2 separate regions of the Homo sapiens genome follow, and region 2 is linked to region 1. The links come from fine-mapping of genetic effects on gene expression. A gene starts in region 1. The other region holds a variant in brackets. All regions are shown on one strand. Distances are between the middles of the regions. Region 1 holds the start of NUFIP1 (nuclear FMR1 interacting protein 1). Region 2 overlaps NUFIP1 (nuclear FMR1 interacting protein 1).

The links.
Region 2: its variant is fine-mapped to the expression of NUFIP1 in prefrontal cortex (BrainSeq, PIP 0.95).

What each region holds. Positions count from the first base shown.
Region 1 is chr13:44,986,175-44,991,557 of GRCh38, reverse strand. NUFIP1 (nuclear FMR1 interacting protein 1) reads left to right here and starts at 2,087. Exons shown (of 10, transcript NM_012345.3): 1 at 2,087-2,533. The coding sequence starts at 2,122. It overlaps GPALPP1 (GPALPP motifs containing 1), which reads right to left and starts at 2,020. Exons shown (of 8, transcript NM_018559.5): 1 at 1,816-2,020. The coding sequence starts at 1,903. RefSeq lists enhancers at 1,274-1,910, 1,837-2,026, 2,217-2,286, 1,911-2,549.
Region 2 is chr13:44,953,549-44,958,931 of GRCh38, reverse strand. The region is part of intron 7 of NUFIP1 (nuclear FMR1 interacting protein 1); the gene reads left to right. Among named protein-coding and RNA genes, the nearest start is that of NUFIP1, 33 kb to the left of the region's middle. The variant T/CTTTTT (reference allele first, on the strand shown) is at 2,774.

The sequences.
Region 1 (5,383 bases):
TAGCAGGGGAGATTATGTGTTTAAAATGACACACTACGTGTAAGATATTGTGCTTGACGAAGAGAAGTCATTCAACAAATATATACGAAGAATCTTTTTCTTTTTTTTTTTTGAGACAGAGTCTCACTCTGTCGCCAGGCTGGAGTGCAGTGGCGCGATCTCGGCTCACCGCAACCTCCGCCTCCCAGGTTCAAGCAATTCTCCTGCCTCAGCCTCCCAAGTAGCTGGGACTACAGGTACGTGCCACCATGCCTGGCTAATTTTTGTATTTTTAGTAGAGACAGGGTTTCACCATGTTGGCCAGAATGGTCTCGATCTCTCGACCTCGTGATCCGCCCGCCTCGGCCTCCCAAAGCGCTGGGTTCACAGGCGTGAGCCACCGCACCTGGCCTTATTTTATTTTTTTAAAGCTATCTCCTACAGGAAGGAAAGCATAATTTTTCACATTTACTTTTATTTATTTATTTATTGAGACAAACTCTCGTTCCGTCGCCCAGGCTGGAGCGCAGTGGCACTCTCGGCTCACTGCAACCTCCGCCTCCTGGGTTCAAGCGATTCTCCTGCCTCAGCCTCCAGAGCAGCTGGGATTACAGGCGCCCGCCACCACGCCCGGCTAATTTTTGTATTTTTAGTAGAGATGGGGTTTCAACATGTTGGCCAGGCTGGTCTTGAACTCCTGAGTTCAAGTGATCCGCCCCGTCTCAGCCTCTCAAAGTGCTGAGATTACAGGCTTGTGCCACCTCGCTCAGCTGGAAGGCATAATTTTTAAAGTGGTTATGACAGAAATTATATTGGAAAGGGGCCTGTAGTAGAAACATAGCCTCCGGGTAGACCAGGAAGAAAAATTAGATTCAGAAATGGCAGGGTTACTCTTTCAGCTTTACTCTTCTCCAACTGGGTGTCGGTGCTAGTCTACAAATGTGAATAAACATTAAAGCAGATAGGTATGCATGCCGGAATCCGAGAAGCATTCGTTTCGTATATACCAAGTGCCTGTTGCGTGTTCAGGTAGAAGACCATAGTGCAATGGTGGAGACAGATTATGTCGACAAATTATTCAAATACAGTGTACTAAATATGCAATGTAATTAGGAAAAAACCCGAGGGCAAAAAGAAAGGCATGACAATGCTTCGGGGAATCTGGAAAGGTTTTATTGGTGTGACATTTAAGTTGGGCCTTGAAGGATGGGGAGAAGTTTGTCAGTTATGTTTAGGAATGCAACCAGAGGAAGCCCAGAAGCCTAGAGCGTTAAGGAATTGCGCAGCAACTCAGACTGGATTGAGTATTGGGCTGTGTTTGTCAGATGCAATAACAGAATGAGAGGCTAGGAAGGCAGGTCGGGGGCTGGAGAGAACAGGATCTGCAAGGTTCTTGTAATCAGAAGGCAATATGGCACAGAGGTTAAGAGAACCGCTTCCTTCTAAGTCGCGCTCCATCACTTGCTAGCAGTATGATCTAGACACTGGCATGGGCTTGGGCGTACCCATTTGCAACATGGGAAAATAGTTTTTTTCTTATACGGCTTAAATGACTGAGTGGGTATCAGTCAGTTAGGGCAGCGTGCAGCTCATATTAAGGCTAAATGAGAATGTATTATCATCACGAAGCCAAACCACGCCAAAGCTCGTTTCTAGGAGGGTCCCCCAGCCTCCTCCCCCCTGCTACTGTTTGGGAAGAGAAAAGTTCTCTCGGGTCAGGCCGCGCCCACTCCCCACTCCTCCGCCCTCCTAGGCCTCCGACTTTCTTCAGCGAGCAGGGCCCGGCCAGGGAGTGGGTAGATGGGCCTGGTGGGCAGCGGAGACGCCGCCGCTTACCAGGGCTCGGGTCCCGCTCTTCGTCCTCCGCTGTTCCGCGGGCCTTGAAGCCGGGCGGCAGGGCCGGTCCGATCAGGTCTCTTGCCATCCGCGGTGGCGGACACTGGTCACAGATATGAGTCTATCCACGAACGTCAACCCTATCCAAAAAGAATCCCGCGATCAGCAGCGAAGAATGGCAGGTTTCCCGGCGCCGAGAAATGACGTAAAGCCTGTGGTTGGCTGAGCCTTGTAGTTCACGGTAAAGGAAGTGACGCCTAATGCTTGCTCCACAGTCGCGTGCTAGACTCCGGACCCGCCAGTGGTATGGCTGAGCCGACTAGTGATTTCGAGACTCCTATCGGGTGGCATGCGTCTCCCGAGCTGACTCCCACGTTAGGGCCCCTGAGCGACACTGCCCCGCCGCGGGACAGCTGGATGTTCTGGGCAATGCTGCCGCCACCGCCACCACCACTTACGTCCTCGCTTCCCGCAGCCGGGTCAAAGCCTTCCTCTGAGTCGCAGCCCCCCATGGAGGCCCAGTCTCTCCCCGGGGCTCCGCCCCCCTTCGACGCCCAGATTCTTCCCGGGGCGCAACCCCCCTTCGACGCCCAGTCTCCCCTTGATTCTCAGCCTCAACCCAGCGGCCAGCCTTGGAATTTCCATGCTTCCACATCGTGGTATTGGAGACAGTCTTCTGATAGGTTTCCTCGGCATCAGAAGTCCTTCAACCCTGCAGGTAGGCTATTTTTCCACGTGAGTCGACCCCTTTACCTTTTTCCCCCGTTCTTTCCTCTCCCCTTTCTCTGCTTCCTCTCTCTACTCTGCCTTGCCTCTGCACTCTTGGAGTCTGGTCATTAGCATCTCAAAGCAAAGTGAGACCCCCGTCTCTACAAAAAAAATAAAATTAGCCAGGCATGGTGGCATGCCTGTGGTCGCAGATGCATGGGAGGCTGAGGCAGGAGGATTCCTTGAACCCAGGAAGTCGAGGCTGCTTTATCAACTAAGTTTATATAATATTGTAAATCCTTTGTTCTCAAAATATGTCTGACTAGAATGTTTTCCTGTTGACTGTTAATTCCATTTAGCAGTTATTTATTGAATTCCGACTATGTACCAGAATCTGGGTATATAGCAGTGAGCAGAACATACAAAAAATATTATGGAGCTTAATATTATCTCTCTTGTGTAGGAAGACAGACAATAAGCAAAATAAAATATTGTGCATTAGAAGGTTGAGTGGCATGGAGAGAGATAAAACAAAGAAGAATGGTAAGTAGTGCAGGATTTTCTTTTTTTCTTTTTTTTTGGAGACAGAGTGTCGCTCTGTCGCCCAGGCTGGAGTGAAGAGTAGCGCGATCTACTTCACTCCAGCCTATGCAGTCTCTGCAGAGAGGCTCACTGCAACCTCTGCCTCCCGAGTTCAAGCAATTCTCATGCCTCAAACTCCTGAGTAGCTGGGACTACAGGCCCACGCCACCACACCCGGCTAATTTTTTATATTTTTAGTAGAAAGGGGGTTGCCCCGTGTTGGACAGGCCTGTCTCTAACTCCTGAGCTCAGGCATCCGCCCGCCTCAGCCTCCCAAAGTGTTGGGATTACAGGCATGAGCCACCACGCCGGGCCAGGTAGTGCAGTTTTAAATGTCATTGTTAGTCATAAGGAAGGTGACATATGAGCGAAGACTTTAGGGAGGTGAGAGATCACAGCCATGCATACAACTGGGAGAATAGGGGTACGGGCAGAAGGAACTGCAAGTGCAAAGGTCTTGAGGCTTAGAAGCTATACATCAGAATGGGAACCAGTGTGGCTACAGAGGACTGAGTCTGGAGTATAATTGTAGAAGATGGGGGAGGAGGGTAAGACCTGGTATGTCTTTGTAGATCGTGGGACTTTGACTTTTACTGTTGTGAGGTGGGTAGTACAGCGGATTGACATGACCTGATTTACGTTTTAAGAGGATTAATGTGTCTGTTGGTGAGAACTGACTGAAAGGGAAACCGGTTAGGAAGCTATTGTAGTTACTTTTCTAAACAAGAGATATTGGAGACTTGGACCAGGGTGAAGCCCAAGGGATGGTGAGAAGTAGTTGGATTCTAGATCTGGGGATACCTTGGAGCTCTTGTGGGTTCAGTTACAGACCACTGCAGTAAAGCAAGTCACACAATTATTTTTTTTTTGGTTTTCCGTTGCATGTAAAAGTATGTTTTCCTGCAGATCCTATGGGGCAAAAAAGTTATTTTTACATTATACCATAGTCTAGTAAGTGTGCAATACCATTATGTCTTAAAAAACAACTTACATACCTTGATTAAAAAATACTTTAGGCTGAGCAGGGTAGCTCACACCTATAATCTGGGCACTTTATTTATTTTTTTTTTTAATTTGTTGAGACAGAGTCTCTGTTGCTCAGGCTGGAGTGCAATGGCGTGATCTTGGCTCATTGCAACCTCCACCTCCCAGGTTGAGGTGATTCTCCTGCCTCAGCCTCCCGAGCAGCTGGTACTACAGGTGCCCGCCACCATGCCTGGCTAATTTTTGTATTTTTAGTAGAGACAAGGTTTCACCATGTTGGCCAGGCTTATCTCGAACTCCTGACCTCAAGTGATCCATCCTCCTTGGCCTCCGAAAAGTGCTGAGATTACAAGCGTGAGCCACTGCACCCAGCCTAATCTTAGCACTTTGAGAGGCAGAGGCAAGAGGATTGCTTGAGCCCAGGAGTTTGAGACCTGCCTGGGCAACAAAGTGAGACCCCCGTCTCTACAAAAAAAATAAAATTAGCCAGGCGTGGTGGAATGCCTGTGGTCCTAGAAGCATGGGAGGCTGAGGCAGGAGGATTCCTTGAGCCCAGGAAGTCGAGGCTACTTTATCAACTAAGTTTATATAATATTATAAATCCTTTGTTGTCATTTCAACAGTGTTCACAGCATCTTCACCAGGAGTAGATTCCTTCTCAAAAAAGCACTTTCTTTCCTCATCCATAAGAAGCCACTTCTCATCCATTAAAGGTTTACCATGAGATTGCAGCAAGTCACATCTTGTGGCTCCACTTCTTTTTTTTTTTTTTTTTTTGAGATGGAGTCTTGCTCTGTTGCCCAGGCTGGAGTGCAGTGGCTCGATCTTGGCTCATTGCAAGCTCTGCCTCCCAGGTTCACGCCGTTCTCCTGCCTCAGCCTCCCTAGTAGCTGGGACTACAGGCGCCCACCACCACGCCCGGCTGATTTTTTTGTATTTTTAGTAGAGATGGGGTTTCACCATGTTAGCCAGGATGGTCTCGATCGCCTGACCTCGTGATCCACCCACCTCAGCCTCCCAAAGTGTTGGGATTATAGGCGTGAGCCACTGCGCCTGGCCCCTCCACTTCTAATTGTAGTTCTCTTGCAGTTTCTACTACATCTGAGGTGACTTCCTCCACTGAAGTCTTGAATTCCTCAAAATCGTCTATGAGGGTTGGAATTTCTTCTTTCAAACTCCTGTTAATGTTGATCTTTTGACCTCCTTCCATAAATCATGAATGTTCTTAATGGTATCTTGAATAGTGAATCAAAACCTCCTTTCTAGAAGGTTTTTAATCTACTTTGCTCAGATC
Region 2 (5,383 bases), 33 kb after region 1:
TTCTTCAGAGCATAGATTATATTTATATATGTTTGTCCTTGAATTTCCTCTAAAACATATAGGGCAAGTTAACTTGCTTATTAGTTGAAAAATAAAAGCATTAAAATGCTGGTGTCACATACAGATATCATTTAGCCTTTGAGACTCCATTTCTCTTCCTGAAAAATGAAATGTGTATGTAAATATTTTTACTACATTTTTCTCCAGTAACATTGTGAGGCTTTATCTAATTGCATATGCTTTGTACTGCAAAGGAATACCCAAAGATTATTAGTGAGTGAATTGACATTAGTGACATTGTAGATTTGATTGTAGGCTGTTTAGCTTGGATGATGTTGGCTTCTATGATAATCACATGGCAAGTTTTTGAACTTACGAGTGGCAAGAAAAGAGAGGATAACTAATTCGTTGACTGAATTAGGATGGAAAAAGATCATTGCATAAGGGAACATTAGGCTAAGTAGAAGATAAAATTTAATAACATTAATGATGATATATTAATATCAACTAACACTGAATAAGGCACTTACTGAGCTCTATATGCTTTATATAGATGAAGTCTTCTTATGACAGCCTTTTACACATATACCGTTACTGTTACCATTTTAGAAATGAGGAACATAGAGACTAAGTATGTTTATGCCATTGAAAGTAATAGTAAAAAATGCAGTTACTTTTGCATCAACCTAATAGTTTATCTTAGTCATTCTGCTCATTAGTGGCAGAATGAGAATTTGAACATATGAGTCTCACTCCACCAGTACACTACACATCCTCTAAATATGAAGTCTGAATTTGTATAAAAAAATATTGTTTGAGTCTAGGATAGTTGAGATGTGAGAGAGAGCAAGAAAAAGGCAGATGATATTTTGAGCCAGTGCTGAGTGTACTCTTGGGCACTGATTTTTTGTTTGTTTTCTTTCAAAAAATTTTAGAGAGAGCTCACATGCTTCTTCAGACTTGTAATGTGTGGCCTTGATGACAAAAGACCATCTGTACTCAAATATAAGCTTTTATGTCATTAAAACACTTAAAACACAAATGTGAAGACTACCATTATAATCAGTAAGTTACTAATTTGAAAATTATGTAAATCTTTTACTTTGTGCAATTTTCTAAATGAACACTTGAAGGACTCTAAGACCGATATTGGATAGTCTTTGTTGTTCTTCATTTTGTTAACTTAGCTTTGGTAGATGGTTAATTCTGTTTTCCCTTTTTATTTAAAAAAAAAAAGTATTTCAGTATATACTAATCTGGTAAAACACCAACTAAAAGACGATTGTATCTTGCTTCTATTTAAGCTTGTCTTAGTCCTCAGTAGATGCCTTAGACATGAGAAACAGTGGTAAATCCTCTCATCCTTATTGGTAGAAATAATTCAGTTGGATTCTGAGGAGCAGTTGAAAGAGAGATCTCAGGCTGGGCATGGTGGCTCACGCCTGTAATTGCAGCACTTTGGGAAGCTGAGGCAGGTGGATCAACTGAAGTCAGGAGTTCACGACTAGCCTGGCCAATATGATGAAACCCTGTCTCTACTAAAAATACAAAAATTAGCCGGGTGTGATGGTGCATGCCTGTAATCCCAGCTACTCGGGAGGCTGAGGCAGGAGAATTGCTTGAACCCCCGAGGTGGAGGTTGCAGTGAGTTGAGATCACACCATTGCGCTCCAGCCTGGGCAACAAGAGCAAAACTCGGTCTCAAAAAAGAAAAAAGAAAGAGAAATCTCAAATAATTTTGTTTTGGTTTAAATGTTGAAACCCTTACCTATAATGAGGGTCAAGGATGGGAACATGCCTATTTCGAGTGTCAAAGATGAGAACCTGTATCTTGAATATAAAAATTACCCATATAGACTACAAATTTATAATTTTGAATATTTAAAAATTTATTAATTTTTATAATATTGTATTATAACCAAGGAAATCACAATGCCAATGATCAAATTATGGTAGCTTAAGTTTGTAGGAAAGCTGTCATTTAAATTCACCTTATCCTTTACCTGGGATTTCCTCTGGACTTTGACATTTTCCAAATCTGTTTTAGACCAGGGGTTCTTAACCCCTGGGCACAGACTGGTACCTGGTACAGTTCCTTAGCCTGTTAGGAACCCCAGGGGGGAGCGGGGATGGGGAGGCGGGGAGCAGCGAGCAAGCATGGCTTCATCTGTATTTACACATTCCCTATTGCCTGCCTTACTACCTGTGAGCTCCGCCTCCTGTCAGATCAGCAGCAGCATTAGATTCTCATAGGAGCGTGAACCCTATTGTGAACTGTGCACGTGAGGGATTTAGGTTGTGTGCTTCTTATGAGAATCTAATGCCTGATTATCTGTCACTGTCTCCCATCATCCCAAGATGGGACTGTCTAGTTGCAGGAAAACAGCTCAGGGCTCCTACTGATTCTACATTATGGTGCATTGTACAATTATTTTATATATTACAATGTAATAGTAATATAAAGTACACAGTAAGTGTAATGTGCTGAATCATCCTGAAACCATCCCCAATCCACCCCCCACCCTCTGTCTTTGGAAAAATTGTCTTCCACAAAACTGGTCCCTCGTGCCAGAAAGGCTGGGGACCGTTGTTTTAGGCCATAGGTTCTTTAACTTTTCACTGCAGGTATAGCTACAGACAATCTATCCCCGTTTTCATATGTCCTAAGTCAGGCTTGTCCAAACCATGGCCCATGGACTGCATGCAGCCAAGGATGGCTTTGAATGCAGCCCAACAAAAATTTGTAAACTTCCTTAAAATATGAGATTCTTTT[T/CTTTTT]TTTTTTTTTTTTTTTTGAGACGGAGTCTCGCTGTCGCCCAGGCTGGAGTGCAGTGGCGCAATCTCGGCTCACTGCAGGCTCTGCCCCCTGGGGTTCACACCATTCTCCTGCCTCAGCCTCCCGAGTAGCTGGGACTACAGGCGCCCGCCACCTCGCCCGGCTAATTTTTTGTATTTTTAGTAGAGACGGGGTTTCACCGTGTTAGCCAGGATGGTCTCGATCTCCTGACCTCGTGATCCACCCGCCTCGGCCTCCCAAAGTGCTGGGATTACAGGCGTGAGCCACCGCGCCCGGCCAAAATATGAGATTCTTTTGTGTGATTTTTTTTTTTTTTAAGCTCATCAGCTGTTCTTAGTATATTTTATGTGTGGCCCAAGACAGTTCTTCCAATGCGGCCCAGGGAGGCCAAAAGATTGGACACCCCTGCCGTAAATATTCTCCACTCTCCAATATATGTTTTCCACTTGTTTGGAGGCAGCTTCTCTTACCTTGGGCAAGAGCCAGCCAACCTTAAAATCTGGTTATTCAAGTTGTCAGTGGCAGGCCAGCGGCCAGCACTGTGATAACAAGACCCACTGTTCTCATATGGCAGTTGATACTTTTCAGCACTAAGCTCACTTTAATAATAAAGCTCTCCCTATTGCTTCCATTTTTTGCCTTTTTCTGGCTCAGAACTTAATCCAGACATCAGCACTCACATTTTAAACAAGACTCAAGTTCTAGAGGATCTTCATAACTTTCAGATCATGCTTGGAAAATCATTGCCTGGGTTCACCTTTTCTGTATTGTATTTGGTGCCATGTGTACTCTCAGTAATTGTGCAGCTACTTTGAATTGAGAATTGACATTGTTTTGATGGGAAAGCCTTTTATTTAAAGAAGTCTCCCAATTTATCAGTTTTGAGTGTGGCTTATTGTCTGTCATTAGATTTCCTTACTAGCATATTTTTTTATTTCCTTGTGTATTCTGCTGACTGGCCTAACTTAAGGATTGTTTTTTCTTTGTTTATTTTGGTATCTCATTAGTTAGCATCCAGTTCATTTTGTTGCCATTGTTTAAAATATATATGCAACAAGTTTATGGCTTTCCTAGCCTGTAGTTTTAAACAGTAAGTCAGTTGTCTCAGCTAGGAAGAAAGTGGGTCAGTAAGGTAGCATTGAGCATCTGTGACTGAAGTGCCTCAGCATCCACAAGACAAAGGCAACCCAACTTATTAGTCATTTGTTGAAATACAGCTATTGTCGTAGAACACTGGGACGTAAGTCTAACTATGCACTCACGTAACCTAGGTTGTTTTAAAGGTAGGCATTAAAATAAGAAAATAAACTGGCCCAGCACATCAGGTGTCATGGATACCCACTGGTAACTGTCTTCTTTGAGAGCTGGAGACTATAAAGCAAAGTCCCTATTTTTGAGGGTGACTTTGAAAATATATTGCATTTTTTAAAGAATACTTAATTGCAAATCTTGGGCTAGAGCATATAATTGTGCTTTGCTCCATAAAGGCAATAGGAAATCGTGGGATGGGGGTTGGTGGGCAGGGGGTACGGATAAGTAAGTAAAGAAATAAGTTACAGGAAGAAGCCAGATAGGAAGCTTTTACAGTTGGTGTTTAGAGCGGACAAGGCATTCAAAGGGCAATGTTATTTTGCTACTTTCCTTTCAGTGGGGATTTATAAGGTCCTGCGTTTGGCTTACCCAGCACTGTAATCCACTATAATGCCGAGGATTTCAAAGGAGTCTCCCTGCCTTCCAGAAACTCATAGTCTAAGAATAATTTTTAGATCATTGCATTAGATTTTTTTAGGGGGGGATGGTGGGAACATGATGTGTGTATACGAGAGAGGTGAGATTTACCCTAAGAAAAGTGTCGCTAATGTTTTAATGGTAAAAGAAATTGTTTGAGCTCGTATTTTATAAAAATGCTAAAGTCTGGTTCTGTCAGATCAATTGCTGCTATCTCTATGCTGGTATTTTCAGTTTAGAAAGATGTTTTAGCTGTTTTTATAAAATGAAGTTTCTTGAGTATTATTTTGTCAGCCAGTACAATGCCTTCAGCATAGTCTTTACCTATAGGTGCTAAAAATGCCTGCATTAGAACTACTAGGTAGATCCCAGGGACTTTTCTTTCTTTCTTTCTTTCTTTTTAAGATGAAAAGTTACTGTAGGAGATGTTCTGAGAGTGCCAAAAGGACAGTATTTTTCAAAGTGTTATTACATATGGTTTGTCCCTTAAACATTTAACTGAGTGGAGAAGAAAAAATAGGGAAAGAGTTGTTTATTTGTGTGAATTTGTAACTTACCCTTTAGGTAAGTCAAGTATAGTGAGCTTTGACACTCCTAGGAACAAGTATACCTAGCACTCTAATTGTGGTTTCCAAATACTATTCTCCAGGTAAAGGAACCAGAGCCTGTTGGAGAAATGACTGATTCTGGGGTTGGGACAGGGAAAATATAAGCTGAACCTAGAGCATCTCATAGCGCCAGAAAGTAAGAAAATGCTAAAAAAATGTGAAGATGTGGGTATGTCAGAAGGATACTAGAAAGAGTTCCCAAGGGCCAAAGTTGGAACAATTGGTGCCACAAAATAAATAATAATAAATTATAAC